4 linked regions of the Homo sapiens genome follow. The protein of the gene in region 4 interacts with the protein of the main gene of each other region in a pairwise test. Each region holds a gene or a part of one and is shown on either strand. Other genes may lie near its edges.

What was found.
Region 1: the proteins of SLC41A1 (region 4) and SLC13A4 interact in binary tests that used the Homo sapiens proteins (3 or more experiments, as listed by UniProt).
Region 2: the proteins of SLC41A1 (region 4) and SCAMP2 interact in binary tests that used the Homo sapiens proteins (3 or more experiments, as listed by UniProt).
Region 3: the proteins of SLC41A1 (region 4) and GPR61 interact in binary tests that used the Homo sapiens proteins (3 or more experiments, as listed by UniProt).

What each region holds. Positions count from the first base shown.
Region 1 is NC_000007.14:135,682,986-135,690,606, reverse strand, and holds part of SLC13A4 (solute carrier family 13 member 4), read left to right. Parts: intron 1-1,578; exon of another isoform or gene 1,579-1,703; intron 1,704-3,284; exon of another isoform or gene 3,285-3,596; intron 3,597-4,923; coding exon 4,924-5,085; intron 5,086-6,345; coding exon 6,346-6,483; intron 6,484-7,621. UniProt on the Homo sapiens protein: Sodium:sulfate symporter that mediates sulfate reabsorption in the high endothelial venules (HEV).
Region 2 is NC_000015.10:74,870,063-74,877,738, reverse strand, and holds the start of SCAMP2 (secretory carrier-associated membrane protein 2), read left to right. Parts: upstream 1-4,373; 5' UTR 4,374-4,483; coding exon 4,484-4,540; intron 4,541-7,676. UniProt on the Homo sapiens protein: Functions in post-Golgi recycling pathways. Acts as a recycling carrier to the cell surface.
Region 3 is NC_000001.11:109,535,109-109,542,871, reverse strand, and holds the start of GPR61 (G-protein coupled receptor 61), read right to left. Parts: upstream 3,001-7,763; 5' UTR 2,919-3,000; exon of another isoform or gene 2,805-2,918; intron 451-2,804; 5' UTR 1-450. UniProt on the Homo sapiens protein: Orphan G-protein coupled receptor. Constitutively activates the G(s)-alpha/cAMP signaling pathway. Shows a reciprocal regulatory interaction with the melatonin receptor MTNR1B most likely through receptor heteromerization.
Region 4 is NC_000001.11:205,802,578-205,810,198, reverse strand, and holds part of SLC41A1 (solute carrier family 41 member 1), read left to right. Parts: coding exon 1-129; intron 130-7,621. UniProt on the Homo sapiens protein: Na(+)/Mg(2+) ion exchanger that acts as a predominant Mg(2+) efflux system at the plasma membrane.

The sequences.
Region 1 (7,621 bases), on a different chromosome or scaffold from region 4:
TGCAGCCATCTCCTTCTGGGATTTGACAGTGGCAATAGGAGATGGTAACAGGAGATAGACATAGGTAATAGGTAATAGGAGTGGTAATAGGCGATCTCTGTAAGGGACCAGAGATGCTCCAAGTGACACATGGTGAACTGTCTGTCCACAATACATAGACTGAGCCCCTTTGGAAAATCTAGGCTAAAGCTGATGTAAATGCTTCTTGATTTTCTGACTGGGAGGATTTTGGATGAGATCTTTTAAGTGGGGTGGGGATGTGAGGGGATGATTGAATTTCCTAAAGTGTTAGCCCTCCATAAAATAGAAAACAATCTTAAGAATGAATTAGGTTAAGGTTCAGACTATTTCTCCCTCCATCTCATCTACATGCATTATCCCATGCTAAACTTGGTTCTCTTTTTTTTTTTTTTTTTTTTTTTTTTTGAGACAGAGTCTCACTCTGTCACCTAGGCTGGAGTGCAGTGGCGCCATCTCTGCTCACTGCAACCCCTGCCTCCCAGGTTCAAGCAATTCTCATGCCTCAGCCTCCCAAATAGCTGGGATCACAAGCACACGCCACCACACCCAGCTTAATTTTTGTATTTTTAGTAGAGATGGAGTTTCACCATGTTGGCCAGGCTGGTCTTGAACTCCTGGCCTCAAGTGATCCACCCACCTTGGCCTCCCAAAGTACTGGGATTACAGGCATGAGCCACTGTGCCCGGCTTGGTTCACTTTTCATGGCCCAAAATACTATCTGCATTATTAATAATAAGGTCACAGAATACTCCACTAAGGAGAACCTTAGAAAACAATGAGTCCTATCTCCTGCCCATGGTGAGATTCCCCTCCATGGCACTTCTGGCTTGGACACTTCCAGTGACAAGGTACTCCCTGGGCAGGGAACAAAGAATAATTGTTCCTTATTTTCAGCTCAGGTCTTCTGCATGTTGTCTGTCCACTGTTGGCTCTAGCTCTGTTCTCTGGGACCCTCTCCTAGATAATAATTATTAACATGAAAAAATCAAGTAGTAGTGACCCATACCATCTGGTCTCTCTCCTCAGGACTCACTACACTTGGCCTTATTCAAACATAGTCTATGGGGTGGTCAGTCTACTGCCAAGTAGAGTAGTTATATTACCCAAGCCCCATCTCTCACCTCTGATTCAAGCAGCACCCTGCATTTTTATGGAAGCTTTTATAAAGCATCCTTGGCACTCATGTCAACAATTATATTAAAACTGCAGTCAATTAGAACCCTTCATTCTTTTTAACTGTTCATCATTACTGGACCTTCACCCCATCCTATATATATGCCATCAATATTTCTCATTCCAAGTTCGGGATATTTATATTTATCTTTATTGAATTTCAGTTGTTAGTTTTGGCCTCTGACAAGATTGGCCTGGCAAGATTTTATTTTTTTTTTTAACCAAAATTGGGCTGGGCACAGTGGCTCATGTCTGTAATCCCAGCACTTTGGGAGGCCATGGCGGGAGGATTGCTTGAGTCCAGGAGTTTGAGACTAGCCTGGGCAACATAGTAAGATCCTATCTCTACAAAAACAAAAGTTAGCCCAGTGTGGTGGTGCGTACCTGTAGTCCCAGCTACTCAGGAGGTTGAAGTGAGAGGATCGCTTGAGCCCAGGAGTTCAAAGCTGCAGTGAGCCAAGATCCCACCATTGCACTCCAGCCTGGGAGACAGAGGGAGACCCTATCCCCTGCCACCAAAACAAAAAACAAGAACAAAAACAAAAAAAAAACAATAAAAACAAAATTGTGCACATATTAGAGATAGTACAGTTATTTCTGTAAAGCCTACTGCCTCTACTAATTTTAATAATAATTTAGGTAGCATATATGTGATTCCTACAGAGTTTGAAATAATTTCAGTTTTGACATTAGTGAAGAAAATCCATTGTAAAATGTTTTCATACCAAGAGTTTAAAGAATTAAGACTTCCTTTGATTGTGTTTTTGTCTAACTTTGAAGTCTAATTTATTTCAAATCATAGTATAAAATAGTTCTGCTGGAAAAATAATTGCCAATAAATTATTTCACTTTACTAGGCCGGGCATGGTGACTCACGCCTGTAATCCCAGCACTTAAGGAGGGTGAGGCAGGAGGATCACTTGAGGCCAGGAGTTTGAGGCTAGCCTGGCCAACATGGTGAAACGTTGTCTCTACTAAAAATACAAAAATTAGTTAGGCGTGGTGGCGGACACTTTTAATCCCAGCTACTTGGGAGGCTGAGGCAGGAGAATCACTTGAACCCAGGAGGAGGAGGTTGCAGTGAGCCGAGATCGTGCCACTGCATTCCAGCCTGGGTGACAAAAGCAAAACTCCAGGGACTGGGCACAGTGGATCATGCCTGTAATCCCAGCACTTGGGGAGGCCAAGGTGGGTGGATCACCTGAGATCAGGAGTTTGAGACCAGCCTGGCCAACATGGTGAAACCTCGTCTCTACTAAAAATACAAAAATTAGCCGGGTGTGGTGGCACGCGCCTGTAATCCCAGCTACTTGGGAGGCTGAGGCCAGAGAATTGCTTGAACCTGGGAGGCAGAGGTTGTGGTGAGCCGAGATCGCACCACTGCACTCCAGCCTGGGCGACAGAGTGAGACTTCCTCTCAAAAAAAAAAAAAAATTTAGCCGGGGATGGTGGCACATGCCTGTAATCCCAGCTACCCAAGAGGCTGAGGCATGAGAATCATTTGGACCCGGGAGGCAGAGGTTGCAGTGAGCTGAGATGGTGCCACTGCACTCCAGCTTGGGTGACAGAGCACAACTCTGTCTCAAAAAGAAAAAAAAAATTATTTCACTTTACTTACCAGTACTATTTGGATAACGTTAAGTAAAACTCCATCTCTTTATATAATGTACCATTTCCATTCAACTAACTGCTGTTCCTCCCCTGCCTCTGTCCAATGAGCAAGGTTTAATGTGTTACCAGAGGGAACAATTAAAGAGTTCCTGGAGGCCTTGGGGCTCTGAAACAAGCATTAATTGATGCAGTCTGCACATATTGGGTTTGTAAGCTCTCAGTGAGTTGAGAGGAAAAAAAGGAAGAAAAGTTCTACAAGGTGAAGTGGCTACAACAGAGAGAATTCTGAAGGCCTTTGGTCCTCAGTTGTCTATGAGCTTGCCAGGAGGTGGCCAGGGTACTGTAGAGATGAAATGAGCTTTTGATGAATTTGGAAGAGAGGAGAAAAAGTAACATGCTGGCAGTGTAGGGAAGGCGGTATTTAATAGTAAAACATGTGTAGCAGGACTTAAGAGCTTGAGGAATCATAAATGTCTCACCTTCCTTTCTGTCCCTGCTCTCCATATTGTCATTGCATTCGCAGTTTCTAGGGTACCATGGGAAAAGGCAGAGCCTGTCACCATAGAAGAGAGAGAGGAAGGGAGGCAGGATGCATATGGCAACCTGGAGTTTTTAATACAAAACTCAATGATACCTTTCATTTTTTAGGAGAGGGAGGTAGCCCTCCCTATTTGCAGGTGAACATCTTCCAACCAAATGAATCATTCCAAGTGGGAATATTTATTCATTTATTTTTTATTTTTTTGAGACAGAGTCTCACTCTGTCACCCAGGCTGGAGTGCAATGGCACAATCTCGGTTCACTGCAACCTCTGCCTCCCGGGTTCAAGCAATTCTCCTGCCTCTGCCTCCTGAATAGCTGGGATTACAGGCGCGTGCCACCACACCTAGCTAATTTTTGTATTTTTAGTAAAGGTGGGCTTTCACCACATTGGCCAGGCTGGTCTCAAACTCCTGACTTCAAGTGACCTACCTTCCTCAGCCTCCTAAAGTGCTGGTATTACAGGTGTGAGCTACCTCACCCAGCCAGAATGTTCATTTATTTAAGTGGATGTGTGTAACTGTTGCTAGTGGAATAAATTCAGGACGGTCAATATGCCTTCATATCTGTGTCTTCAAAAAGCACTGGCAGGCCAGGTGCGGTGGCTCACACCTATAATCCCAGCACTTTGGGAGACCAACGTGGGAGAATCGCTTAAGCCCAGGTCTGTTTGAGACAGGCCTGGGCAACATGGAAAGACTCTGTCTCTACAAATAAAAAGAGCAGGGCGTGATGGTATGTGCCTGTGGTCCCAGCTACTTGGAAGGCTGAGGTGGGAGGATTGCTTGAACCCAGGAGGTTGAGACTGCAGTGAGCTGTGATCATGCTGCTGCACTCATCCTGGACCCTGGGCAATAGAGCAAGACCCTCCTCTTAATTAAAAAAAAATTCCTGACAGATAGTAGAACTAATGTCAGCCATGATGAGATTTGAACCTAAAACAGGTTGGGGCTGAATGACCAGCCTCTATGGCACTTAAGAGGCACCTTCTCCACTAAGTGGAAATAGACTTTTATCCCCCTCTACTTTATTACTCCTGTAAAACCTCCAGTGCTCAGCCCTGCCTGTTCATCTCCTTAAAAACACAGGAAAGGCTACTATCCACAGATGTTGATAAATTTTTCCCTTTTTTAGGTAACAAAATAAACTGGTTTCAAAAGCAGATTAAATGGCTATACTTGGCACTCTGTGAAGGGCATTGTCGAATCAATGCACAGGGTAAGGATGTCAGAGGCTAGAGAAAGGGTAACGAGACTGAAGTTGAGGAGCAAAGATCTCCAACCTCTGACAAGTTGTCATGGCAAAGTCCTAAGAAGGATCATGGCAATTAGGGTGGCTCTCCATGTCCCATGACGAAACCCAAACACTGAATGTTGTGCAATCATAAAAACCAATTTTCTGAACTACAAAAATGATCGAACCATAAAAATCAGGAACACCTCTGGTTCCAGTCAGACTAAAGATCAGAGGATCCCTGGTCGTCCAGCCTTCCAACATCCCTGACCTTCTGAAGTCTAAGATCTCTAGCTGGGATGTGCTTCTTCTCCTTTCTTCTTACTGTAACACCTCTTCCTACAGAGCTCTGGCCTCTCTACATGGATTGGGAACCAGATGTTGTCCCTGAGCAGCCTCCCACCGTGGGCTGTCACCCTGCTGGCATGCATCCTCGTGTCCATTGTCACTGAGTTTGTGAGCAACCCAGCAACCATCACCATCTTCCTGCCCATCCTGTGCAGCCTGGTGAGTAATGCGGAGCTCCCAGACATCCAGACAGGCTGTCCCAGGGGCCTGGAGTGGCAGGCCTGGCTCAGGGCAGCTTCCGTAGCTGTAGGCTCTCCTCTGGTTACTGCCCACAGCCTTCACTAATTGGTGTTCAATTCCTATTTTGAAAAATGAAGTTTTTCAAATAGCAACTAGTAAATAAAAAGATACACTAATAAATCATAGCAAGAGTTCTAGAAACCTTTGTCCAAAAGAGTAGGATTAGTTTAGGGGCAGCCCTGAGTGGAAACCAAAGAACATACAAAATAATATTCAAACCCTATCATTTCAATTCCCCGCAATCATTATCAACCTTTCTCTCCTGAGATAAAACCTGAGTAGGGCCAAAGAGGTAGCCACAGAAAATGGAGGTAAAACACACACAGCTGAAAAGACTGAGCTCACAACTCAGACAATCATCACAGCCTCCACTGAGTTTCACTGTCCTCCGGGAAGTTCTGAGGATTGGGAGCAAGGTCAGCTTTGCTCCACAACCTCAGACCAATTTGTTGTGAATAGAATAAGGGAGGGGAGCAACGGCCAGATCTTAGCCTGGCCAAGCAGCCGGAAAGGTGATGCATCTGACCCAATGCTTCATCTGTCCCATTCTGGGAGGCAGAATCCAGGAAATGAAGGCCCCTCCTGACCCCAGCAACATAGTCTCCTACTGCTCTTTCTAACCCCAGAGCCATACTCTCTGCTCATTGCTCAGATGACCCCAACTTCTCCCTTCCGTCATCTTGCTCCTGCGAGCAACAGAGTGCAGTTAAAACTTGGCAACATTGAGAGCAGGACCATGGATTCAAATCCCATATAAAACAATTATCTTCCCTAGGAAAAAAAAAAAAAAAAAACCACCTTAGTTCTGTACCCTAAGACTGAGGAATCCCCACTTCAATCAAAGCAACCTATTCATGAGATTTGAGTTTAAGGAAAGGAAGTCTCAGCTAAAGAATAAAGTTTAGGAACCAATTCCTTAGAATAACACCAAAAAAATCAAACATCCCTTCTAGGGAGTAACTCAAAGCCATATTTCCATGTGGAGCAAGTAAGCAGCATCAGCCTATTCAGGTTGTCAAGGGACTGCATGCCCCAGAGGGCAGAGACCTAACTACCCCTCCACATAGTGTCCTGCTAAGGTTAGCCAGCACCAAGTCATCATTAAAGCATGCTCCTGACATTAAGCACAGGAAATGCAAGCCTAATCTCGTGAATGTTTCTGTGAATTCTCTCTTCTAGTCTGAAACGCTGCACATTAACCCCCTCTACACCCTGATCCCAGTCACCATGTGCATCTCCTTTGCAGTGATGCTGCCTGTGGGCAATCCCCCTAATGCCATCGTCTTCAGCTATGGGCACTGCCAGATCAAAGATATGGTGAGTTGGGGTGCCCTCTCCCTGCCAGGCCCAGCTGCCATGAGGACAGGGATGACAGCTCTGCAGCCTTCTTTCAAAGCTTATTTTGTAGCAGTGTCCCTGGCCTGTCAATGCTAAACCCAGTGTGGTAGCAAGAATAGCACCTATAAAAAGGTTTTTGTTGGTCTATAAGCACCAAGGATAGCAAGAATGTGCTCTCCCCAACCCTTCCCTGGAAGGAAGTGGGTACCTAGGTAGAGAAAGCTGGAACAGACAGGCTGTGGCCCAGTTCCAGAAGGCATGAGCCTGTGCAAACAAGTTTTGCCTTCGTTTCTTCATTAGGCCAGTGGAGACATTCATTGAGAAAGCTACTGGTTTATTCACAGAAGATGAGAATGAGGAAGTGTATGAACCTAGGGTGAAAGGTATTTTGAGAAAACAGGATTCTTCTGCTCAACTCACCCTCCACCCCGGCCCAGGCAAGAAACCCCTGAAGCAACAATGGAAAATGAAGCGTCCACCATTCATTTTCATTTTCAGCTGGGCTCACAAAAGATGGCTTTGAGATATTTTGCTGCTGACTTTAGCACTGGGCCTATCTACCTTCTACTCCTCTACCTATACACCTGCTGCTATACTTAGTATCCAGGGCTGAGCGGGGGGGGAGAGGATGGAAAACACTGATACGAATTACTGATGGTCTGACAATTTTTTTTCATGGGAGCCAAATTTGTTCTCGGGCAGCCCTGTAAAGTAACAAATAGAGGAAAGGAAGAAAAAGTTTCAGGCTGGTGGCAGATATTCAGGTCCTTTTTTATCCTTTTTTTTTTTTTTTTTTTTTTTTTTTTGAGACAGAATCTCACTCTCACCCAGGCTGGAGTTCAGTGGTGCGATCTCGGCTCACTGCAACCTCTGCCTCCCAGGTTCAAGTGATTCTCATGCCTCAACCTCCAGAGTACCTTGGACTACAGGTGTGCGCCTCCATGCCCAGCTAATTTTTGTATTTTTAGTAGAGATGGGGTTTCACCATGTTGGTCAGGCTGGTCTTGAACTACTGGCTTCAGATGATCTGCCTGCCTTGGCCTCCCAAAGTGCTGGCATTACAGGTGTGAGTCACTGCTCTCAGCCTATTCAGGTCCTTTCGACTGTTCGAACTGCT
Region 2 (7,676 bases), on a different chromosome or scaffold from region 4:
GCAATTTTTTTTGTATTTTTTAGTAGAGATGAGGCTTCACCATCTTGGCCGGGCTGGTCTTGAACTCCTGACCTTATGATCCACCTGCCTTGGCCTCCGAAAGTGCTGGGATTACAGGTGTGAGCCACTGCGCCCAGCCTCTGGGATCAGAGTTTTTAAAGATAATTTGGCCGGGTGTGGTGGCTCATGCCTGTAATCCCAGCACTTTGGGAGGCCGAGGCGGGCAGATCACGAGGTCAGGAGATCGAGACCATCCTGGCCAACATAGTGAAACCCCATCTCTACTAAAAATACAAAAATTAGCCGGGCATGGTGTCGCATGCCTGTAATCCCAGCTACTTGGGAGGCAGAGGCAGGAGAATCCCTTGAACCGGGGAGTTGGAGGTTGCAGTGACCCGAGATTGTGCCACAGCACTCTAGCCTGGTGACAGAGCAAGACTCCGTCTCAAAAAGAAAAAAAGAGAGAAAAAAAAAGATAATTTGGCTGGTAGGGGCTAGGCAAGTAGGGAGTGCTGATTGGTCGGGTTGGAGATGGAATCATAGGGGGTCGAAGTGAGTTTTTCTTGCTGTCTTCTGTTCCTGAGTGGGATGGCAGAACTGTCTGAGCTACATTACTGTTGGAGGTGGTGTCAGCAGATCCATCAAGTGCAAGGTCTGCAAAATATCTCAAGCACTGATCTTAGGTTTTACAATAGTGATGTTATTCTCAGGAGCAATCTGGGGAGGTTCAGACTCACAGCTGAAGGCTGCATGGTCCCTAAACCATAGTTTCTAATCTTGTAGCTAATTTATTAGTCCAGAAAGGCAGACTGGTCCCCAGGCAAGAAGGGATTTTTTTTTTTTTTTTTTTTTGGAAAAGGGCTATAATCAATTTTGTTTCAGAGTTAAACTATAAATTCCTTCCCAAGGTTAGTTCAGCCTACACCCAGGAATGAACAAGGACCACTTAAAGGTCAGAAGCAAGATGGAGTAGGTTAGGTCTAATCTCTCCCACTGTCATAATTTCCTCAGTTATAATTTTTGCAAAGGTGGTTTCAAGATCAAGATGAGAAAAATGGGTCTTGGAGAGGTGAAATAACTGGTTTAAAAGCAAAGAGCTGCATTCTCTATACCTCCTCTCTTGTAGAATAAATGAATGATGTCTCTCTTGTAGGGAATTAGACAGATAGATGGGCAGCCACCACATTGGTTGTAATTAAGTTTCATTCTTTCTTCACCAGCCCAGCATTGTACTTGGCTGCAGCAGACCCAGAGCAGGCAGGACTGCCTTGTGGGGTGTGGACTGTTCTCCTCTGAGGCTGCAGAGAGCAGACAGCAAAGATCTGTCTGCTGCCCTTGAGGGGTGGCCATAGAGGCTTGGGGACAGGCAATTTCTAAGGGGATACAAAATGGATCCTTCCCCATCCTCCCACTTGTGTGCAGATATTTCCCGAAGTAAAGCTGAGCTAAACCCTAAAGGATAGTCAGGATTTAGATGGGAGAGGAAGGTGAAAGAAACAGATGACCAGGCGCAGTGGTGTGTACCTGTAGGCCCAGTACTTTGGGAGGCGGAAGTGGCAGGATCAATTGAAGCCAGGAGTTCAACACCAGCTTGGGCAACAAAGTAACACCCTGTTTCTAAATAAACAAACAAAATAAATGGATGCAGGGAAACAGTAAAATAGTTACTAAATGTGTATGATGCATGTGGGCTGGGCACAGTGGCTCACGCCTGTAATCCCAGCACTTTGGGAGGCCGAGGCGAGCAGATCATTTGAAATCAGGAGTTCAAGACCAGCCTGGCCAAGATGGTGAAACCCAGTCTCTATTAAAATTACAAAAAAAAAAAAAAAAAAATTAACTGGGTGTGGTGGTGAGTGCCTGTAATCCCAGCTACTTGGGAGGCTAAAGCAGCAGAATCTCTTGGACCTGGAAGGCGGAGATTGCACTGAGCTGAGATCATGCCACTGTACTCCACCCTGGGTGACAGAGTGAGACTTTGTCTGGAAAAAAAAAAAACCCCAAACCCACAAAAAATAAATTAATAAATGTGTATCATGTGCTTTATACTATGTTAGTGACAGAAACACAACAGTGAGCAAAACAGACCTCAGCCCTACCCTCATGGAGCTTTCAGTCTAGCGGAGGATACAGGCATAAAGAACCACCTATACTAGTATTAATTACAATCTGCAATGGGTATTGTGAAGGAAAAGTACAGGGCAATAGGAGAGCTTATGTTGGGTATGAGGTGATGATGTAACCAAGAGAGTGAAGGGAAGCTACTCCTGAAGAAAGGCATCTGAACTTGCATTTAAAGGGTAAGGAGAGGTTAACCAGAGGATGATAGTGGGGCATGGGTTAAGTGCATACCAGGTAGAAGGAACACATGTGTAAAGGCCCTGAGACAGGAGGGCACAAGGAAGGTTTGAGCAACTGAAAAGAACTTGCATGGCTGGAACAGTGGGTGGGGGTTGGGGGCTAGAAGGGGTCAGAAGGGGAGAAACGTAGGGGCAGATCCTTTAGGACCTTGAAGACAAACTAAGAATTTGGGCCTTTATGATTTTTTTTTTTTTTTTTTGAGACAGAGTTTCACTCTTTTTGCCCAGGCTGGAGTGCAATGTTGCAATCTTAGCTCACTGCAACCTCCGCCTCCCAGGTTCAAACGATTCTCCTGCCTCAGCCTCCCAAGTAGCTGGGATTACAGGTGTGCACCACCACACCCAGCTAATTTTGTATTTTTAGTAGAGATGAGGTTTCACCATATTGGCCAGGCTGGTCTCGAACTCTTGACCTCAGGTGATCTGCCTGCCTTGGCTTCCCAAAGTGCTGCGACTACAGGCATGAGCCACCTTGCCTGGCCTGATTTTTTTTTTTTTTTTTTTAACTGAGACAGGGTCTCACTCTGTCACTCAGCTGGAGTGTAGTGGTGCAAAGATGGCTCACTGCAGCTTTGACCTCCTGAGCTCAAACAGTCCTCCTGCCTCAGCCTCCCAAGTAGCTGGGAGTACAGGCACAGGCCACCATGCCTAGCTAATTACGTGTGTGTGTGAGATATGTATATGTATATATATATATATATATATATATATATATATTTTTTTTTTTTTTTTTTTTTTTTTGTAGAGCCAGGGTCCTGGTATGTTGCCTAGGCTGGTCTCGAACTCCTGGCTTCAAGTGATCCTCCTACCTCTGCCTCCCAAAGTACTGGGATTACAGGCATAAGCCACGCACCCAGCCCTTTATGGAAATTAATTGAAAAATTTTAACAAAGTTCTGTGATAATTTTGCCCCCTTTAAACATATCTTTGATTACAACATGAAGAACAATAGACCAATTAACAGCACTGTATTAGTTCAGGGTAAAAATGACAGTGGCTGGGATTCGGTGACAGCAGAGATGAATAATACCAGACAGATCCAAATAAATAAGGTGGATTTGGCCAGACAGTGGTTCATGAGTATAATCCTAGCATTTTAGGAAGCCAAGGCGGGAGGATCACTTCAGCCCAGGTGTTTGAGACGAGCCTGGGCAATATAGTGAGATCCCCATCTCTACAAAAAATCCATAAATTAGCTGGGTATGGTGGTGACCAGCTGTAGTCCCAGCTACTCAGGAGGCTGAGGTGGGAGGATTGCTTGAGCCCAGGAGCTCGAGGCTGCAGTGAGCCATGATTGCACCACTGCACTCCAGCCTGGGCGACAGTGAGACCCTGTGGGGGGCGGGGGCGGGGGAAAGCGGAGCTGTGGAGAGTGAAGCAGCCACCTCCCCCATGATTGAGGCTGTGTTGCTGAATTCCGTGAGTCACTTCATAAATGTTTGATGTCCAGGTTCAAGTCCCAACTCAGGTCCCAAAGCTGATGGGCCCAGGAACCCTCGTCCCTAAAACGATGAAACGACATCAGAGGGCGAGCAGCCCTAGAAGAAGCAGGCTCAGCTCGGGTGGAGGACTGCTGGATGGTCCTGGCACTTCTCTTTCCCCGAGCACGTTCTGCAGAAGAAGCGCTTTCCTAGTTCTCCCAAGGCCTCTGGCCTCACCTGTCACCCCTGTCCTTTGCCCAGGGATCAGTTTGGACTTCTTCCCAAACTTGGTCTACAGAGAAGTGAAGGGGCTGTTTCCTGTCCCACTTTTGAGAGTTTGCTTTAGAAACATAAAATTGGAAGGTGTCAGATTGATAGGCAGTTGGGAAGGACTCCGGCCACGCCTCTGGCTCCGTAGACGCTCCGCGCAGCCAAGACCCCTGAATCCCCAGCAGAGCGAAGATGTGGACGGAAGCCGAATGCCCACCCACCGCACTATTGTGGGCTGGGCGGGGGGGGGGGGGGGGGGGGCGGAGCGACCCCGGTGCCGTCATAGGGCCACGCCCTCGGGGGAGGGCATCGCGCCTGCGCCAGAACCGCTGCCTCGCTCCCGGAAGTGGAGGGTCTACACGAAGCGCCGCTGGGTCTGGGTGCCCGGAGGCAGCAGCGTTCGCGGAGTTCGCCCGCTGGCCCCCGATCACCATGTCGGCTTTCGACACCAACCCCTTCGCGGACCCAGTGGATGTAAACCCCTTCCAGGTAGAGCCCCTCTCCCGCCATCCAGCTCTCAGATTTCCCTAGGGCCCACGGCCGCCGCCCGGGCCTCTCGCTAGAGCCGGGAGACGTGGCGTAGGAGGGACGGGTCATCTGCCCAATGGGAGAGCGGGCTTTGAGGTCTGGCCTATCGTAACGCGTGAGGGGCGCGACTAGCAGCAGGTGGAACTGCAGAGGAGGCGGGGCGCTGAAGTGTTGGAGACAGTGGGGTCTTCTAGCACCCGGAGGCTGGGCTGTGCTAGGGAAGGGGACTGGAGCAGGTACGGTCGGACCCTTCCGGAAGTCTCCTAGCGTCAGGGAGAAGCGAAATGTGGCTATCGCATTCCCTCATTCTTGGATAGACACCTGTCTTGAGTCACTTTAGAAGAGGGGGTGACAGCAACATATGAGGAGGTGGTGAAGCCTCTGGTGGAGGGGAAAAATGTGGGAAAAGCCCAGGACACCTGCCACCGCTCCACCACCAGCCAAACTAGTGTATAAAGTACAGGAGAGCCCCTGAGATTTGTCAGGGAAAGAAAGATGGGAGAGGGCGGGAAGGTAGCCCAAGTTGAAAAATGGCCTTGATAAGAATTCCACATTTTGGCCATGGGTCTAGTTTGGAGTGGGTTTTGACCAGATAGGAGAGCCCGGGTTAGGGAGAGAGGAGAGGTGCGGGGGACTGTGAAAAATTCTGGACCCACAGGGAACGTTTGTCTGATGGAACTGTGTGTGGTGGCAACATAGTTGAGATGCACTGACGTGTGAGCTGGCCTGACTTTTTTTTTTTTTTTTGAGACGGAGTCTCGCTTTGTCGCCCAGGCTGGAGTGCATTGGCACGATTTCCGCTCACTGCAACCTCTGCCTCCCGAGTTCAAGCAATTCTCCTGCTTCAGCCTCCTGAGTAGCTGGGACTACAGGCGTATGCCACCACACCCAGCTAATTTTCATACTTTTAGTAGAGACGGGGTTTCACCGTGTTGGCCAGGCTGGTCTCAAACTCCTGACCTCAGGTGATCCATCCGCCTCGGCCTTCCAAAGTGCTGGGATTACAGGTGTGAGCCACCACGCCTGGCCTGACCTTTTGAACAGCAATCAAGGAAGAAACAATCTTCCTGCTTTCTTTCTTTTCCTTTTTTTTTGTTTTGTTTTGTTTTGTTTTTTGAGACAATTCTTGCTCTGTCGCCCAGGCTGGAGTGCAGTAGCGCGATCTCGGCTCACTGCAGCCTCAGCCTCCTGGGTTCAAGTGATTCTCGTGCTTCAGCCTCCCGAGAAACTGGGATTACAGGTGTGCACCACCACACCCGGCTAATTTTTGTATTTTTAGTAGAGACGGGGTTTCACCTTATTGGCCAGACTGGTCTCAAACTCCTGGCCTGAAGTGATCCACCCACCTTAGCCTCCCAAAGTGCTGGGATTACAGGGGTGAGCCACCACACCTGGCCTCTTTTTTTTGAGACAGAGTTTTGCTCTTGTTGCCCAGGCTGGAGTGCAGTGGCGCGATCTCGGCTCACTGCAACCTCAGCCTCCTGGGTTCAAGCAATTCTCCTTCCTCAGCCTCCTGAGTAGCTAGGATTACAGGCATGCACCACCACGACCGGCTAATTTTGTATTTTTAGTAGAGACGGGGTTTCTCCACGTTGGTCAGGCTGGTCTCGAACTCCCGACCTCAGGTGATCCACCTGCCTCGGCCTCCCAAAGTGCTGGGATTACAGGCATGAACCACTGCGCCCAGCCCTCTTTCTTCCTTTTTTAAGGCAGGGTCTCACTCTGTCGCCCAGGCTGTAGCACAGTGGAGGTCATGGCAGCCTTGACCTCCAGGATTCAAATGATTATTTGAATCCCACCTCAGTCTCCTGAGTAGCTGGGACTACAAGAATGTGCCACTGGGCCTGACTCCTTTTAAAAAAAATTTTTGTAGAGAAGGGGTCTCGCTGTGATGCCCAAGCTGGTCTCGAAATCCTGGTCTCAAGCAATCCTCTGGCCCCAGCCTCTCAAAGTGCTATGATTACAGGCATGAGCCACAGGACAGTCTTCCTACTTAAAGCCCACACCTTTCTGCCTTTCAGCTGAGAGCACAGGGATGATCTTTTTCCACCATGAGGGGCTGAACTGTTACCTCCAGAGCTCCTATGCCTCTTGTTTCACGTCTGCTCAAAACCCGTTCTAGGGAAGCTTGTTTGTGCTGACTGGTGAATTATGAGCCCTGATATTCTGCTCTGTCAGGATGTCACCAGGCACATTAACTCACCCTGCTTGTCCTTTATTTTGGTCATTGGCAGCTTTTAAGTTTCCTGCAGGTGTCAGAGAAGTCCTTGAAGGAGTCCTTCCTGTCATTCACAGCATGAGTTTTCCCACTTTGAATCGCTTCAAGGGTCAGAGCAAAATCAAAGGAGACTTGAACTAAATAATTATACGCTGTCAGGAGAGTGAAAATGTTTTGCTTCTTTCTTGGTCTCAAGGTGTCTTAGCCAACAGGAGCCCTCAGGGCAAATTCTGATAGCTTGTTCCTTAGAACATCAGGGAATTCTGAACATTCCTCTCGTAGCTTAATGTTTCTTGACAGAGCGTTTGCAAGGACCTTGTCTCTTATGTAAGGCAAACAGTCATCTCTATTGAGTAAAGAAAGAAGATTTGCATTTTTTTTTTCTGCCAATGTCTTCTGGTAACAGACTTTAATTACAAAACTGCTGTATAATACTGGGGTTTGGGTTTTAGTAGGATCTTGTAGCCTTATGGTGTATGTTGTATGTGATGATTTTCCATTTTTTATGTGTGTTTTTTTGTCCTCTCAGAATCAGAAATAAAAAGTCTGCTGCTGTCTGACAGAGAGGAAGTCAGTTGTCTAAAAATGCAGAGAGCTTTGCTCCAGTGTTAGCAGAGGGCAAGATAGTTCTACCCTGTATTAATAGCTGCTTGAAAGTCTTAAACCTCATCTCTGGCTCCAAAAATGACTGTGCAAACTGTGGTAGAAGTAACTTCTGCATTCTAGCGAGACAGTCTGTCCATCAGGAAGCCCCAGGATATGGCATGACAGGAAGCAGCTGTGGTCCTGTCAACCAGCCACATCTGGTGGGGAGTCCTGGGTGGGAAGAAGAAAGCTGGCTGGCTGGCTGCGATTTGCTCCTCCTCATCCTGGGCTGGG
Region 3 (7,763 bases), about 96 Mb from region 4:
ACAGAGCGCCAGGCCAGGCAGCTGAAGGATCAGAAGCTCATCCCCTTTCTGGCCGGAGGTAGCTGCAGGGTCTGCCTTGGTGACTGCTAAGAAGCAGGAGACGTGAGAGGTGCAGGAGCCTGACCCACTCAACACTCCGCTTTCGGAATGGCCTTCACCTCTTCCTTTTCCATCTCCTTTCTGCCATTCTTGTTCTCCATACCCTTCTACCCTTTCCAGAACTGTTAGCCGGGGATTCTAAATCCTGTTTCTCCTTCCCAGGGTCCTGCTGATCTCTGGGATAGTGCCTCAGTTTTAGGGTTCCTTATGTAAATTTCCTGATTTCTTGTCTCCTCAGAATGGCAAGAGCTGCTGGGGAGTAGAAGGAGCACAAAATTTAGTTTCTAGTCCCAGTTCTGGGCATTACTAACTCTGTGAATCTTCTGAATTTCAGTTTCCTCATAAATCCATCTGTAAAATGAAAGGAAGAACACTTGCTTCACAACTGTGTTTCTGGATCCTGCGTGATTTGTTAATAATAATACTAATGACAAGCAGTAGCATTGATACGGCGTTTTCCACATGCCAGACCCTGTTCTCAGCACTCTACCTATATTAACTCATTTTATTCCTCACACAACCCTATGAAGTAGATAATATTTTTATCTCCATTTTGCAAGAGATGAAGCTGAGGTCTAGAAAGGTTAAGTAACTTACCCAAGGTCGCACAGCTAGTAAGCGGCAAGGGCTGGGCACCTACCTGGGCAGTCTGGCCCCAGGTCCAGTACTCTTGCCCACTGTGCCATGCCATATGTGAAGGTGCCCTCCGTGCCGGCTGGACTATAATAGGCATCCAGTAAATAGTTGTTGAATTTCAGCTGTCTCTAAAACTGTCTCTTGCTGCCCTAGGGTTATCATCTGAAAAGGGGAGCTGTGCTTTAGGCTCTTTTGACATCACTACTCCCAGCACAAAGAGCTGCCACTTTGGGAATGTTGAGTAGGAGCAGTGAAAACAAAATGTCCCGTCTGGAAGGAAACTGGGAGGCCAGCTCATCCAGCCTCCACTGCTCCCAAAGCCGGAAGTTGCTTCAAGCTGCCCTTCTCCACCCACTCATGAACTCTTCAAGGCCACTGTGCCCCTCTTGTGGGAAAGGAGCTGCTGCCAACCTCCTGCTCCCCAGATCCCCAAATCTCTGATCTCTGGAGCTGACCCTTGGAGGATCCCTGACCAAGAGCCGCATTGGTTCTAGACTTACTACAGTCACAGAACAAGAAGTAGGGAGGAGACACTGAGGTTGCTCAGTTTAAAAACCCATCATTTCTATGGCTGCAATAAAGAGGATCACATGGCAAGATGGGCCCCACTCTCCTCCACAGTTATAGCCTTACAGTCACCTTTGGTTTTTGGTGTTTCCATAAACCTTACACCAATCCAACTTCTAACATGCTATGCATGCAATAGGTGCTGAATACAATTTTGTGAATTGAATCAAACTCAAATTGGTAGTTGAATCCCTGCCCCCTAGGACAAACTCCAAGAACACTCAGTCAGCCAGCTGTGTGCCAGCCAAGGGACTCTCTTGTGGAAAGGGTAGCCGGGGTTCCTGGACTTGAGGAAGCCCTAACTTTGGGCAACTGCCTAGAGACGTGCCTCTCTCTAGGGACACAGAAAGCTCATTTCACAGTTAAGATGCCCACAGAGACTTAGAGTCTGCAGAGAAGTTGAAGAGCGGGCACAAAAGTGAGACATCAGCTTCTCATTAGAGTCTACCAGGAAAAATGCCTGAAAGAAATGCTAGGAGAAGCATCCTTCCTTCTTACTCTCCATGCTCTGATTTACCTATCCCTTCTGTCTGTGAGTGAGGCCCAGAGGATGTGGTTCAGAGTCCCTCCCTGGTGGCTGAAGGAGGAGAGGCCCACCATGTCTGGATGGACATCAAGAGTCCCAGACGGAGGGAAGCAGACCTGGTTTCCACGTGGAGCTGGAGGGATGCCACGAAGCCATGATGGAGCCCTGAGCAAGAAGGCATTGGACATTGCTCTTTTTCATAGCTCCCTCAAGCTTGCCAGTGTCTCCACAGTGACTCCTAAATGCCAGGATTCCAATTTACCTCTTAACAGACAGATCAGTGTATCTGGCTAATGGGCACTCCCTCACTAATGGACTGGGGTTATGGAGGGGAGGGCTGTGGTGTAACAGTTTCATAGGTGAAACCCAGGGAGCCTCACTCCTCTCCCAGGTCATATCATTATGCCTACTCCCCCAACAGATGCTTTCCTTCCCCCACTACTTACTTCCAACAGCACCCCTCTTACCTCCAGGACCTTCAGTACCTAGAAGGCTTTGCCACTAGGGCCTGAGGTCTGGGCCTCTAGCAGGGGCATGGTCAAGTTACAGGATGCAAGATGTGCATAAGTGCCCAGCCCAAGGCCACAGAGGTATTGGGATTCACATGCACCTGTTTTCCAGATCCAGAGCTTCCATCCCAAAGACCTGAGCCTGGCCTTCCTTCAGACAAGAGCGTGCCCCTCCTAAGCTAGGGAAGATTTCCAGGGAGCTACAACACCTCTCCTCAGCAGAGTTGCCCACGCCCAGGACACAGTTGCCCATCAGCCTGTATGCTGAAGGGCCCATTCCTAGAATGTGGGAGACCCATGTCCATGACATGGAGCAAGACAGATGGAGAATGCTGTTTGTCTGCAGGATGTGGGTACTCCTGCCGGCAGGAGATGATCAACCCCCCAGCTCTGGGCTTCAGAGATGCCCACACCCCAATACCGCCTTTGGGATACCTGAGAGCCCATCTCCTGATCAAACTGCTCACCGGAATGTAGGCAGGGCTGGTCCTTGGAAAGCCACCCTTCTGTGGGGATACCTTGGCACTCACCACCAGGCTCTGGGTCTGGCCCCCATTCCTGGCCTAGTCGGCAACTCCTACCTTTGCTGAGCAGTCCCGGCTCCCATGTGATAGCTCCTCTCAGCTGATGCTTCTCCAAGGCTGCTGAAGCCTGAAGCACTGCAGTGAGCGGTGAGAGGCAGCCGGCAAAGCAGAGTGCTCCGAGAGCCTCTGGGTCCTAATGGCCTCCTGCTTCCCACCCAGCCCCTCAGAGTCACTTCTGGAGCAAAAAGGTGGGCACCAATGCCCCAGGCAAGGTGCCTGGCAGTGAGCTCAACTCCTCTCACTTCTCTCAGGCTGCTGGATTGCGTCTCAAAAATTTCGTGGGGCCAGGAAATGATAGGTAGGGGAGACCCTCTTGACCAGCCTGATGAAGTAAAAAAAAAAGTACATGGAGTCAGAAAATCCAGGTTTAAGGCCTGGCTATGGCACTTACTAGCCGTGTGACCTTGGGCAAGTTGCATTTTGGCCTTGATTTCTTAGCAGTTCAAAGAGAAGATAGGAGAGATGCATGGTTCTGTGTGACATCAGAACCAAGGTGCTGATGCAGGCAGGTCAGCGCAGACCCAGGGCCCCAAGGCTTAGGCCAGGGAGGCGGCTGAGGCTCCAGGGGATGGTCCAAGGTTTGGCCCCTTTGGAAGCTGCCTAATGCGTATGGGGGACAGGTTTAGGAGCAGCACTCAGGTTTGAAGGGCAGCTGAAGGCTTTGTCTTAACCCTGCCCTTGCCTCCCAAAAGCACATTATTATTATTTGCTTAGATTGTATGTTTATTGGAACTGGGGCTGTGAGGGCTGATGGAGATTGGCAGGGAGGGGGCGGGAGGATCTAACATCCCCCCGAGCCACCATGGGAACCACCACAACACTGCTTCCTGAAGGAGACAGAGTGGGGGCCAGGGACTCAGGAATGCTCACACTGATCTGGATTTGTGGGACTGGACAGAGCTAGGTAGCATCAGCCACTGAGCATCGCCCATCTGTGGCATGATGGGCCTTCAGAGACGCAATGAAGGGGCATGGCCTCCCTCTAGCTATGAAGAAAATGATCATTTACCCGGGTACATGACTGATACCCAAGGATAGAATCCTAACATTGCAAAGCTGTAGGACATCCTACAGGCCAAGGTATCCATGTTTCTGAGACCCAGAGAGATAAAGAGATTGCTCAAAGCCACATAGCTCCACATGGCAGAGCCATGAGTCTAAACAGGGAATTCAGGCATGATCCCCTACTCCAGAGCCTGCTTCCCTGAGACTTGCCTATCTAGGGACTCCTTCTGCCTCTAAGAAGGAAAAAGGGAATTCTGGAATTGTTTACCAGACCCAACCCAAAGAGCCATAAGAACAATGAGTTACCCAAGGACCTCACTGGGACAAGTTGGCTGCCCCAAGCCCCAGGTCAAAAACAAAGAGGCCACTGACAAACCAAGAGCCGATGCAGCAAGTGCCGCTGTCACCAGCCACCACTTTTTGAGCTGTTATGAGTGCCAGGCCCTTTACATACAGTTTCTTTGATCCCCACACCAATCTATGAGGCAGCCATGACTTGCCCTATTTTATAAGTGAGGAACCGGGTGCTGGAGGAGAAGTGACTTTCCCCAAATCACACAGCTAATAAGTGCAAGAGCTGATATTTGAACCCAGATCTGTTTGAAGTCCAAGTATTTCCTCCTCCTTCTCCCTTCGTTCCGTGGCCTCTCCAGTGGCCTGACACAAGACTGTGGACTACAGCCCTAAAAGCTATCTTCATAGAAGTAGTCACTGCCTTCCAGAAAGCCTAAAACAGACCTCAAAATTAGGCATACCTGCGTACAAGAAATTCAAATGGAAATACCAAATTGAAAACCTGTAGACAGCAAAGTGATTTTTAGGAAGCCCTGTGCTGTTGTGTTGGCAAGATTAATTTGGCATCAAGCAGATTGTCTGGGATTAGGTAAAGCCTGTCCCTGCTCAGCACCCACATTCTTCCTGCAGGGCCCCAGCCCAGACTGGCATGGCCCCTTCCGAGGGATTCAATAAGAACTGGAGCAGACCTGGGCCCACTGGAACAGGATTTTAGAAAGAGCGCTAGACTGGAGTCAGAAAACCTTGGTTCCAGTTTGGCGCCATTCTATTGGTTGGTGGTAAGACCTTGGCCTGTGAGTTGGCTGTCTGTGAAAATGGGCAAAATTCTTCACTTCCAAGCTTATCTAATAGTGGTAGGGAGCCTGCAAAACAAACATAGCCTGCCTCTCCAGCTTCAGGGAGCTAGCACAGGTAATCACAGCTCATGTGGTGGCCAGCAGGCAAGGCGTCCGTGTCCTGAAGCCCCTCCCAGAGAGCTATTGGGAAAGGCAGTACCAAAGAGGCAGCATGTTCCAGCTGTTGGAACCATCTTGGCTCAGGAGGTCGGCGGGGGAACTGCTTATTCTAGCCTGTGGGCAAATAATAAATAATAATAATAATCATGCTGGCTGGGCACAGTGGCTCACGCCTGTAATTCCAGCACTTTGGGAGGCTGAGGCGGGCAGATGATTTGAGATCAGGAGTTCAAGACCAGCCTGGCCAACATGGCGAAACCCCGTCTCTACTAAAAATACAAAAATTAGCTAGGCATGGTGACACATGCCTGTAATCCCAGCTACTCAGGAGGCTGAGGCAGGAGAATCGCTTGAACCCAGGAGGTGGAGGTTGCAGTGATCTGAGATCGCACCATTGCACTCCAGCCTGGGCAATAAGAGTGAGACTCTGTCTCAAAAAATAATAATAATAAATAATAATAATAATAATGCTACTAGTTCTTGAAGGCCCACTTTGGGAGGCACTTCTTATGCTGTATCTTATTAAATGATCTCAGTCAGGGTGTGGAGTAGCTACTGACAGCACACCCCCAACCCCACCTGCCAGTCCCTCCTTTTAGTAAAGCTTAGCACAATGGAGGGGGCAAGAAGACCAAGATGGAGAAACTGAGTGTGATCCCCCAAACCACATAAGAGATCCATGGCTCACTATGCTGTGCACACACCCAGGAAGGGAATCCTGTTACAGGACGGGGACCAGGCCCTGTTTCCAACAGTGGCACCCCTTCCCTTGGTATCATGGCAGGGCCCTTGCTGCTGAGGACTGATCTTTGCATCCTAGACTTGCTCCCTGGTACAGTTTTACCCAACCCTTGTGCACCAGCACCTCGTGACAGGGTCGTGTCTGCCCATCCACCCTTTTCTGCCCCAGGATGAGACCTGGAAGCCAATCAAGTTTATCTTTCATTCATCCATCCACTTCTTCAATAAACATTGAAGACTTCTTATGTTGCCACTGCCCCCTCCCTAGAGCCCCTTGCCTGCTCAGTGGCACCCACTACCCTCCTTCTCTGCCTTGTGTCAGAATCTGCTCTCAGGAAAGAGGTTGATAAACCCATTTGCACTGATAGCAACTTAATGTGTTCTTTCCCAGGAATATTAACAATTTAACAGGGAACAAAGAGAAGAAGCAGAACGTTGGGATTCCAGCATCGACCAGGGATGTCCCTGAGATCCCACAACATAGACTGCCTGTCAGCCGCCTACTCCCTAGCCAGGCCTCCCCCGCCAAGCTGCTGGCATTGTGTCCTCTTGGCATCCACCTCCATCCGCATGGGCACCCAACCCCCCCGCCCCTGCCAACCAGACAGCAGGCTTACAGCTGGGACCTCCACACCACAGCTCAGTTCCTGGCTTCCTGGGGCCCCCCTGTACCAGCACCAGCCATGCCTGCTTTCCAAGCACTCACCTCACCCTGCCCAGCATCTGGGAGCCAGGCCAAGGGGCTGAGGAGGGAGGCAGAGGAAAGCAGAGGTGAGAGCCCTTCCATTCTCTTTATTCCCCCACTGTCTGGCCTACACCCCCTGCCAGGAGCTGAGATCCAATGGTATATTCAGCCTGCAGCTGCCACTGGTCATGTGAGCCCATTGCTAGGTTACAGGGACCCAAAAATAAATCCTTCCCAACCAGATTAGAAACTGGGGGCCTCGGATGAACCAGGCTCAAAAGAGTGGCAGGAACACCCACAGTGCATGTTTAGGCCAGGCCTGCTATGGACCAGGGCCCTTCCCATGCTGCCCACCTCCTGTCCATCAGCAGGGGCTCAATGCTGGAACCCCACAGAAAAGTCCCAGAGAGCTCCTGGGTCTCCTATTTATTAATAACACAATAAATAGGTCTACAGGTTGAGTGGCCCTTCCTCACTAGCAATCAGGGTAATATCCTCTGCATGTTCTTCCCATCCAACCTTCCCATCATCAGCCTGTCCCTCCACAGGCCCTGCCCTACACCCAGTGCATGGGCAAAGCGAATTAGTCATTTGCCCTGTGGCCTGGGGGCCATCTGCCCTAACAGTCCTTTTCCAGACTCGGGAAGGGAGCTCTGGCAGTAGGCACAGCACTAGGCGTATTCGTGTGAGTAGTCTTACACAATCTTCTCTGTTAGTCTCAATGATTCCATTTACAGATATGGACACTGGGGCTTAGAGAGGTTAAGTGACTTTTGCAGAGCCACACAGTTGAGCAACTGGGGTTCAAACCCCAGATCTATACTATGGGGATGAGGCAAGGAAGAAGACAGGGAAGCACAGTTATGGAAAGGGGAGTTCCCCAAAACCCTTCCCTGGGGCCTGAAAACTTGGCACTTTAATTGCTCTGAATTGGAGGGGAGTTATCTCCCCCTGGAACTTCTTTCACATCCTCCAAGCCAGGACGCAGCTTACCCAGGCCACGTACCTCCTTCCCCATGGCTTTGGGCTCTGTCCCCTTCTCTGGGAAATACTGTCCAGGACCTGGGTGGGGTCATCCCCGGTGCTGAAGCCTGGGGAGGCAGACACAAATCCCCACTGCTCAGCACAACCCTGCTTCAGAAGCTTGACATAGGGCCAGAG
Region 4 (7,621 bases):
GACCGTGGCCCTGCGCCACCTTCCCCGCTCAAGGAGACCTCCTTTTCCATCGGGCTGCAAGTACTGTTTCCATTCCTCCTGGCAGGCTTTGGGACCGTGGCTGCTGGCATGGTGTTGGACATCGTGCAGGTAGGACCTGAGTAGGGCAGCTCTTGACTGTGAGCCCAGGGCCACCTTTGCCTGCTGGGAAACTTGGAACTTCCTCTCTACCTCCCTGTCAGAAGTGGCTGCTGCTTCCTAGAATACTGTTTTCCTTTGGATCATGTCCTCGGTTTCTTCTTGGTCTAGTTCCTTTCTACAGAAGCCTCAAGGAAACCGAGTAGCCCTGGGGAGGTGATCAGGGCAGTATTGCTAAATAGAAACAGAATTGGCTCCCGAGCTCAGGCTTGGGAGAGGAGAGATGGAACAGGGTCGTTGCTTGCCATCTCTCCCAAGCAGTCCTGCCGAGCCCAGCTCAGTAGGAGACATTTACAAGGGTCTCCTCTTTATGCCTTTTGTCCCCTGCATTTGGGGTTTCAAGGATACCCATAGTAGAAAGCTCAGTTTCAAGCCTCTCCTCCATCCCCCTACTGGGCAGGAATTTGTTCAGCTGCCAAGAGGGTCTCAAATTAAGTAGGAAGGCTCTTGAAGGCATTTTGTGTTGCTTATCTTCCTGTAACCTTGGCATAATCCCCTTGGGGGGTGGGGGTGGGCACTTGCTGTCTGATGCATGATTTGGAGATTTGGTGTAACAAGACCCAAATGTGCTAATTATCTGCTGTAAATGGGGACAAAATGTAACTAGGCCTGGGCAGAACTGTCTCTCCTCTTTGCTCCTCACCTGTCATTCTGAACCTGCCCTGGGCAAAGAGGGTTCTTTTTGAGGACATTGGGTAGAATGAAGGATGAGAGTCGGTGGGACATGGAATCTAAGAGCCAGAGATGTGCCATGTTAATTTATTGTGAGTCAGGACTTATGAAGAACCTCCAGGTCCAAGAGTTAAAGTTTTGTTTTTAGATAAAAGTTTTTTAGGCACAGTGTGGCACACCAAACTTTTTGAAGGTGCTGGGTTTACCTAAGTAATTCAGCAATGTGTATCAAATTCCTGCTGAATGCTGGCCTCTGTCCTAGGTACTCAGAGAAATATTAATACCAAGGCAGGAGGAGATCTGGCCTTTGCTTTTTGGGACCCCCAGTGTTCCCTGACTGTGATATCTCCCAGAAGGACACGAAGCTTAGCATCACCTTCCCTGTGCCAAGCCAACCCTACAGACCATAGTGATATAGAGTTCTGCTGGTAGGTCTCACCATGCCTGTGTCCTGGGAGACTGAAGGGGGTTGGTTCTTGATAGTGTGTGCACATGGAGAACTTTGACTTGAGCCCTTCAGGGGAACCCTGCACCTTTGGTTGCTCATGAGAGTGCTGTTTAAGTCATGCCAAAGTGCCTTGCACTGCCTCCCCTTTCCCCAAAACTGTTATCTTGAAGGTTGTTCCTACATGGAGGTTGGGAAGCCAGCCTGGAGCTTTGGGTTCCTCCTGCTAGGGGCTGCTCCTCCCCCTAGGGCCGGGACTGGGACAGTAGGAGGAGGAGAAAGAGACTAGGGTAACATTTTTCTTCACCTCTTCTATTCCTTTCCTGTGGCCTCAGTTCTCATTCTTGAAGTTGTTGCATTCTGGTTTGATACCTACAAAGGGTTGCAGAGCCAGGGTCCAGAGGTGAACTGAAGAGAGTTGTCTTATTTTCTGGATAATAGTAATGGTAGTGGGGAAGCATTTGGGGGGCTCTTCGGTAGGCCCATGAGGTAGGATCCATAATCATCTCCATTTTGTAGGTAGGGAACTTGTAGCTTAGAGGGATTAGGTAACTTGTCCCTGGTCATCTGACCCTAGAGCCCACACCACTAACCCCTGTGGCCTTCGCCATGGCCATGGTTCACCAGTTGGTTAAAAACTCGGAGAGGGGGCCGAGCTCAGTGGCTCATGCCTGTAATCCTAGCACTTTGGGAGGTCAAGACGGGCGGATCACCTGAGGTCAGGAGTTTGAGACCAGTCTGGCCAACACAGTGAAACCCCGTCTCTACTAAAAATACAAAAAATTAGCTGGGCATGGTGGCAGGCACCTGTAGTCCCAGCTACTTGGAAGCTGAGGCAAGAGAATCATTTGAGCCCGAGAAGTGGAGGCTGCAATGAGCCAAGATCGTGCCACTGCTCTCCAGCCTGGGTGACAGAGCGAGACTCCAACTCAAAAAAAAAAAAACTCTGGCTGGGCATGGTGGCTTATGCCTGTAATCCCAGCACTTTTGGAGGCTGAGGCAGGAGGATCGCTTGAAGCCAGGAGTTCAAGACCAGCCTGGGCAACAAAGTGAGACCTTGTCTCTACCAAAAAAAAAAAAAATAGTCAGGCATGGTGGCATTCTCGTATAATTCCAGCACTTTGAGAGGCTGAGATAGGAGTGATCACTTGAGCCCAGGAGTTTGAAGTCGCAATGAGCTATGATTGTACCACTGCACTCCAGCCTCAGCAACAGAGCCAAACGCTGTCTCAAAAAAAAAAAAAAAAAAAAAAAGACTCTACGAGGAGCCTATTTTCTTTGTCTTTCCTTGAAGAACTGGGTGGATTAGAATCTGGATTAATTAGCGTTATCTTCTGAAGTGAGCAAGAATAAAAGTTCTTAGATGGGGTAGGGAGGGACCCCCGCATACACACCACACCCCTACCCATCCCACACACTTAGATTCCAAAGTTTCTGATGTGTTGCCCCATCCCCACTCCAGGCCCATGAGCTGGAGACATTGAGAGGCCTGGGTAGGGAACCTTTGGAGCTGCTCTCAGTGTGGCACCTCAGCTCACCTCAGAGCTAGGGTCCACTTGGTGTGGATGACAATGACAGGTTTGTCCATGTCCTCCTCCCCCAGCCTTCCTGCTACAGCTGGGCTGGAGCAGGCCCTGCAGATGGCAACAGTGAGATGGCAGGAGGGGGTGAGTGCAGAGGGACCGAGACATGGGACCACAGGGAGATTGTTATTCCACATCCATGGGAGTAAAAGGGGGACTGACAATCTCAGATTCAGGAAGAGCGGGATGGTTTCTAAGGATTCACACCTATATTACCCCTTCATAAGCTAAGATGGACTTCAGTAAGAGAATCTGAAAGTGCCCCAAGACCATGGGGCCATCTGGAGAAGCTGGCTATGGAGTGTCCCCAGCATCTTGGAGCAACTGAGCAGGAGTCCATATTGGGCCTGGTTCAGATGTCTCCTTGGTCCAGGGCCCCCATCTTTCCTTGCTGCTGTAGAAAACTTGGTTTCTTTTTCACCAACGAGATGCAAAAAAAATAAAAATAAAAAGTTGAATTTTAATTTTAATTTAAAAGAAAAAGAAAACCCACTCTCTTCCTAGAAGGGTCATTTCTGCCTCCTCTTATCTGCCCTCCCGTAAATGTGCACAGCAGCATCTGCAGTGAAATAAGGGGCTGGTGCTGGCCCAAAGTAGGAAAAGGATAAATGGACCTCCATCTGCTCTAACTTCCCAACCATGGCTGAAAGTTCCTGCAGCATCTGGAAGGGAAGCAGGCTGGGGCCTGGTGTTGGCTTCTGAAGGGGGTTGGGATATGGGAGCCTCCTCACTGCAGGAGCCTTGTGCCCATCTGCCCAGTTTGGTCCTAGGCTGCTCCGGATGTCTCACTCCCTTTATCTGTCAGCCTTTGTGAGGGATGGGGTGACAGGAAGTAGTGTGCCCATCTGCACTTTAATTCCCAGCTAGGTTAAGACAGGTCCTTATTTTAACTCACTACTCACCTGCTAAGGATCTTGAACAAAGTAGATCCTGCTGTGTATACAGAAGTCTACAACGATGAAAGTGCATGGCAAGCGTGGCCTTGGGGAAGTAGAGTGGGAAGGAAGTATTCCTCCTGTGCCTGGCCTGCTCCTGTGGCCGCAGCATCCCTGGGCGGGACACTCTTATCTGCTTCACTTGACCACCCCTTCTGCTTTTCCCATCTCTGTCCCCTGCCTGCTGTCAGGGACCCATTTGCTTTGCTCCTGCTTTGTCCTGCACCGTATATCCAGGTGTTGCCCTAAAGCCCTTTCCTGGACACCTAGAGGATGCCTTTTGGAAAAGCCTCAGACAGGTGAAGCCTGGGGTTACTGTAATCTCATCTGACCCAGTCCTTACCCTAAAAGATCAGCTCCAGCCCAGCTTCTCCCACAGGAGCCCAGATTCTCCCCAGCCTGGAGCCTAAAGCTTGTATCTGGGAATTTAAGTCTTCTTAATGTCTTGATTCCTGGCTCTGACTTTCTTCCCTGCTGCTACCCTCCTGAGGTGGCTCAGGCCAGAACCCTTGAAGGCAGGTCAGGGTCAGTGTATGAGCTTGGATTGGAGTAGGTGAAGGATGGAAGAGGCGCATTGGAAGGGCAAGGAAGAGGTACTGGCAGGACCACTGAGGATCGAGACTTAAGGTGATTGCTGTGCCTCAGGATTCATTTTGGCTATGGGGGAGGCAGTCTATTCCCTCACCTGCAGAATACCAGGGATCCATGAGCCCCTCACACCAAGGTTAGAGAAGGAAAGAGATGAGGAGCTGCATTTCTGAGAAGTAGTTAAAATCTAGATGCTCCCCTCACCTCCAAGCAGGGCAGCACTTCCTGGAACATGCCCTTTTTCATCCCCATCAGAGCAGGAAGGCGTGGGTGGCTGCTTGGCAGACGGGTGTGACTTCAGGGGCAGATACTCCTAGCCTGGATGAACAGGATGGGGCTGAATTTGGCCAAAGGAGGAAGAAGAGCTACTCACTGTCTGCCCCTGCCCATCCTGTCTACTCCTAACCTTAAGGCCACCTTGATTCCTGGGCTGGCTCCACATCTCCAGCCTCCAGCATCTCTTTCCAGAGTCCTATGCATGCCCATGTGTCAGAGGCTTTCTGCCTGAGCTGCAGCTTTGAGAGGGTTTGTGGGTGAAGAAAGTATGTGTGTAGGAATTGGCTTCTCTGACCCAAGTGCCAACTCGGGGCTTTGCTGGCCTGGGGTCAGGTCGTTTGAGGTTCCAGGCTATATTCTGTAAGAGTCGGGAAGACTTTTGCATAGGGGCTGTTACTGTGACTGCTCCCTCTCCTTGCCTGTCTGTCTCTTATCCCACTGCTCCTAACACTCCGTACTTTGTAGATCCTCCTGTAGCTATAAGGAGAGGGTGCATTGTGCTGGGAGGTAGAGAGATTTGGGGTGCTTATGGTAGCAACCAGAGGAACTTAGCTGAGCTTTATACATTTTTCTTAAATAATAATAAAAGCAAGCAATATTCATTACAAACAGCTCAGAAAACATTGCTTGCATACATGTGGAGTCTTCTTGTGGGCTTTTTCTTTCTATGAGTACATGTACATTACATACACCTACCTGTAGAAGTCAGATTTTCATGGAGCTGGCAGCTTGGAAGCAGGGTGGAGCTGGTGTTTTGGGGTGAAGATGAGCTCTGAGGCTGTGCTCTGAGAGGAGCTTTGAAAGCCCGCAAGGGAGGGGAGAAGAGGGGGATTTTTCCCCTCTCTGGAGCTGGTTTGGGAGGAAGCAGGAGGCGAAGCAGAGCAAGGCCAGACTGCAGGGAGCTGGAGCCTCAGTGGTATGTACCAGCCGTGTCCAAGAGTAACAGTCCCCAAGTTGCTCCAGGGCAGATGGGGCTCACTGGGGCTGCCTTCTCTCTGGGGGGTCTTAGGGTGGGAAGGGATTCACTTCCCTTCAGTGTTTGGAGAGGGCTGGCTCATCCTTTGGCTGCCTGGAAGCCCAGTAACTGTTGTTGAGATGGGGGGCAGTCTCTTCCCCATTGTTAGTCCCTACGGTGGGGCTTCCCTAAGGAGAGTCCCAGGTCTTGGCCAGACCAGAAGCTCAGGCAAGCGTATGCTCCAGCCCCAGTGAAATGAGTCCTTCCCCAGGATCCTGTGAGGCCTCCCACCCCATTCACACAGGGAGAGCTCCGACAGGAAAAGAGAGGTTCTTGCCTTATAGGGCCACCCAGCGCCCAGCCTCTCCTGGTCTCAAGCCCTAGCCCCACCCCCTCTGATAGCCTTGCTTATCTTTTTGGTTATTGTGGTAAAAAATGTGTAACATAAAATTTACCATCTTAACCCTTTTTTAAGTGTGCTGTTCAATAGTACTACGTATATTCACCTCATTGTACAACAGATCTCCAGAACTCCTCATCTTCCCCAGCTGAAGCTCTGTACCTATTAAACACTCACTCTTTTCCCTGCTCCCCCAGCGCCTTGCTTCCACCATTCTTCTTTCCGCCTCTATGAATTTGACTACTTAGGCTGGGCTCGGTGCCTCATACCTGTAGTCCCCACACTTTGGGAGGTCGAGGCGAGAGGATCCTTTGAGCCCAGGAGTTCGAGACCAGCCTGGGCAATATAGTGAAACCCCTGTCTCTACAAAAAATACAAAAATTAGCCAGGTGTGGTGGTGCATGCCTCTAGTCCCAACTACCCGAGAGACTGAGATGGGAGGATGGCTGGAGCCCGAAGCCATGATTGCACCACTGCACTCCAGCCTGGGCCACAGAGTGAGACCGTGTCTCAAGAAAAAAAAAAAAAAAAAAAAGAATTTGACTACTTTGGATACCTCAGATAAGTGTTTTTTATCTGAGTGTTTTATCATACAGTGTTTTTTATGACTAGAGTAATGTCCTCAAGGTTCATCCATGTTGTGGCATATGACAGGATTTCCTTCCTTTTTAAGGCTGAGAAATATTCCATGGTATATATGTACCACACTTTGCATATTTTGTTTATCCATTCATTCCTTGATGGACATTTGGGTTGCTTCCACCTCTTGGTTATTACATATAGTGCTACTATGAACATGGGCATATTAATATATCTTCAAGACCTTGCTTTCTATTCTTTTGGATAAATATCCAGAAGTGGGATTGCTGGATCATGTGGTAGTTTTATTTTTAATTTTTTGAGGAACCACCGTACTGTTTTTCATAGCAGCTGCACCATTTTATAGTCCCACCAAGAGTGCACAAGGGTTCCAATCTCCACATGCTTTTTTCTTTTCTTGAGACGGAGTCTTGCTCTGTCACCCAGGCTGGAGTGCAGTGGCACTGTCTCGGCTCACTGCAACCTCCAACTCCCAAGTTCAAGCAATTCTTCTGCCTCAGCCTCCCCAGTAGCTGGGATTACAGGTGTGCGCCACCATTCCCGGCTAATTTTTGTATTTTTAGTAGAAACAGGGTTTCACTATGTTTGCCAGGCTGGTCTCCAACTCCTGACCTCAAGTGATCCACTTTCCTTGGCCTCCCAAAGTGCTGGGATTACAGGCATGAGCCACTATGCCCAGCCCAAACTCTACATCCTTGCTAACACTGATTATTTTCTGGGTTTTTAAATAGTAACCATCCTAATGAGTGTGAGGTGATCTCTTACTAATCTACAGTATTGCTCAACTTTATTTTATCTATTTTATTTTATTTTATTTTATTTTATTTTATTTTATTTTATTTTATTTTTGAGACAGAGTTTCACTCTTATTGCCCAGGCTGGAGTGCAGTGGTGCGATCTTGGCTCACTGCAACCTCCACCTCTTGGGTTCAAGCGATTCTCCTGCCTCAGCCTCCCGAGTAGCTTGGGATTACAAGCATGTGCCACCAC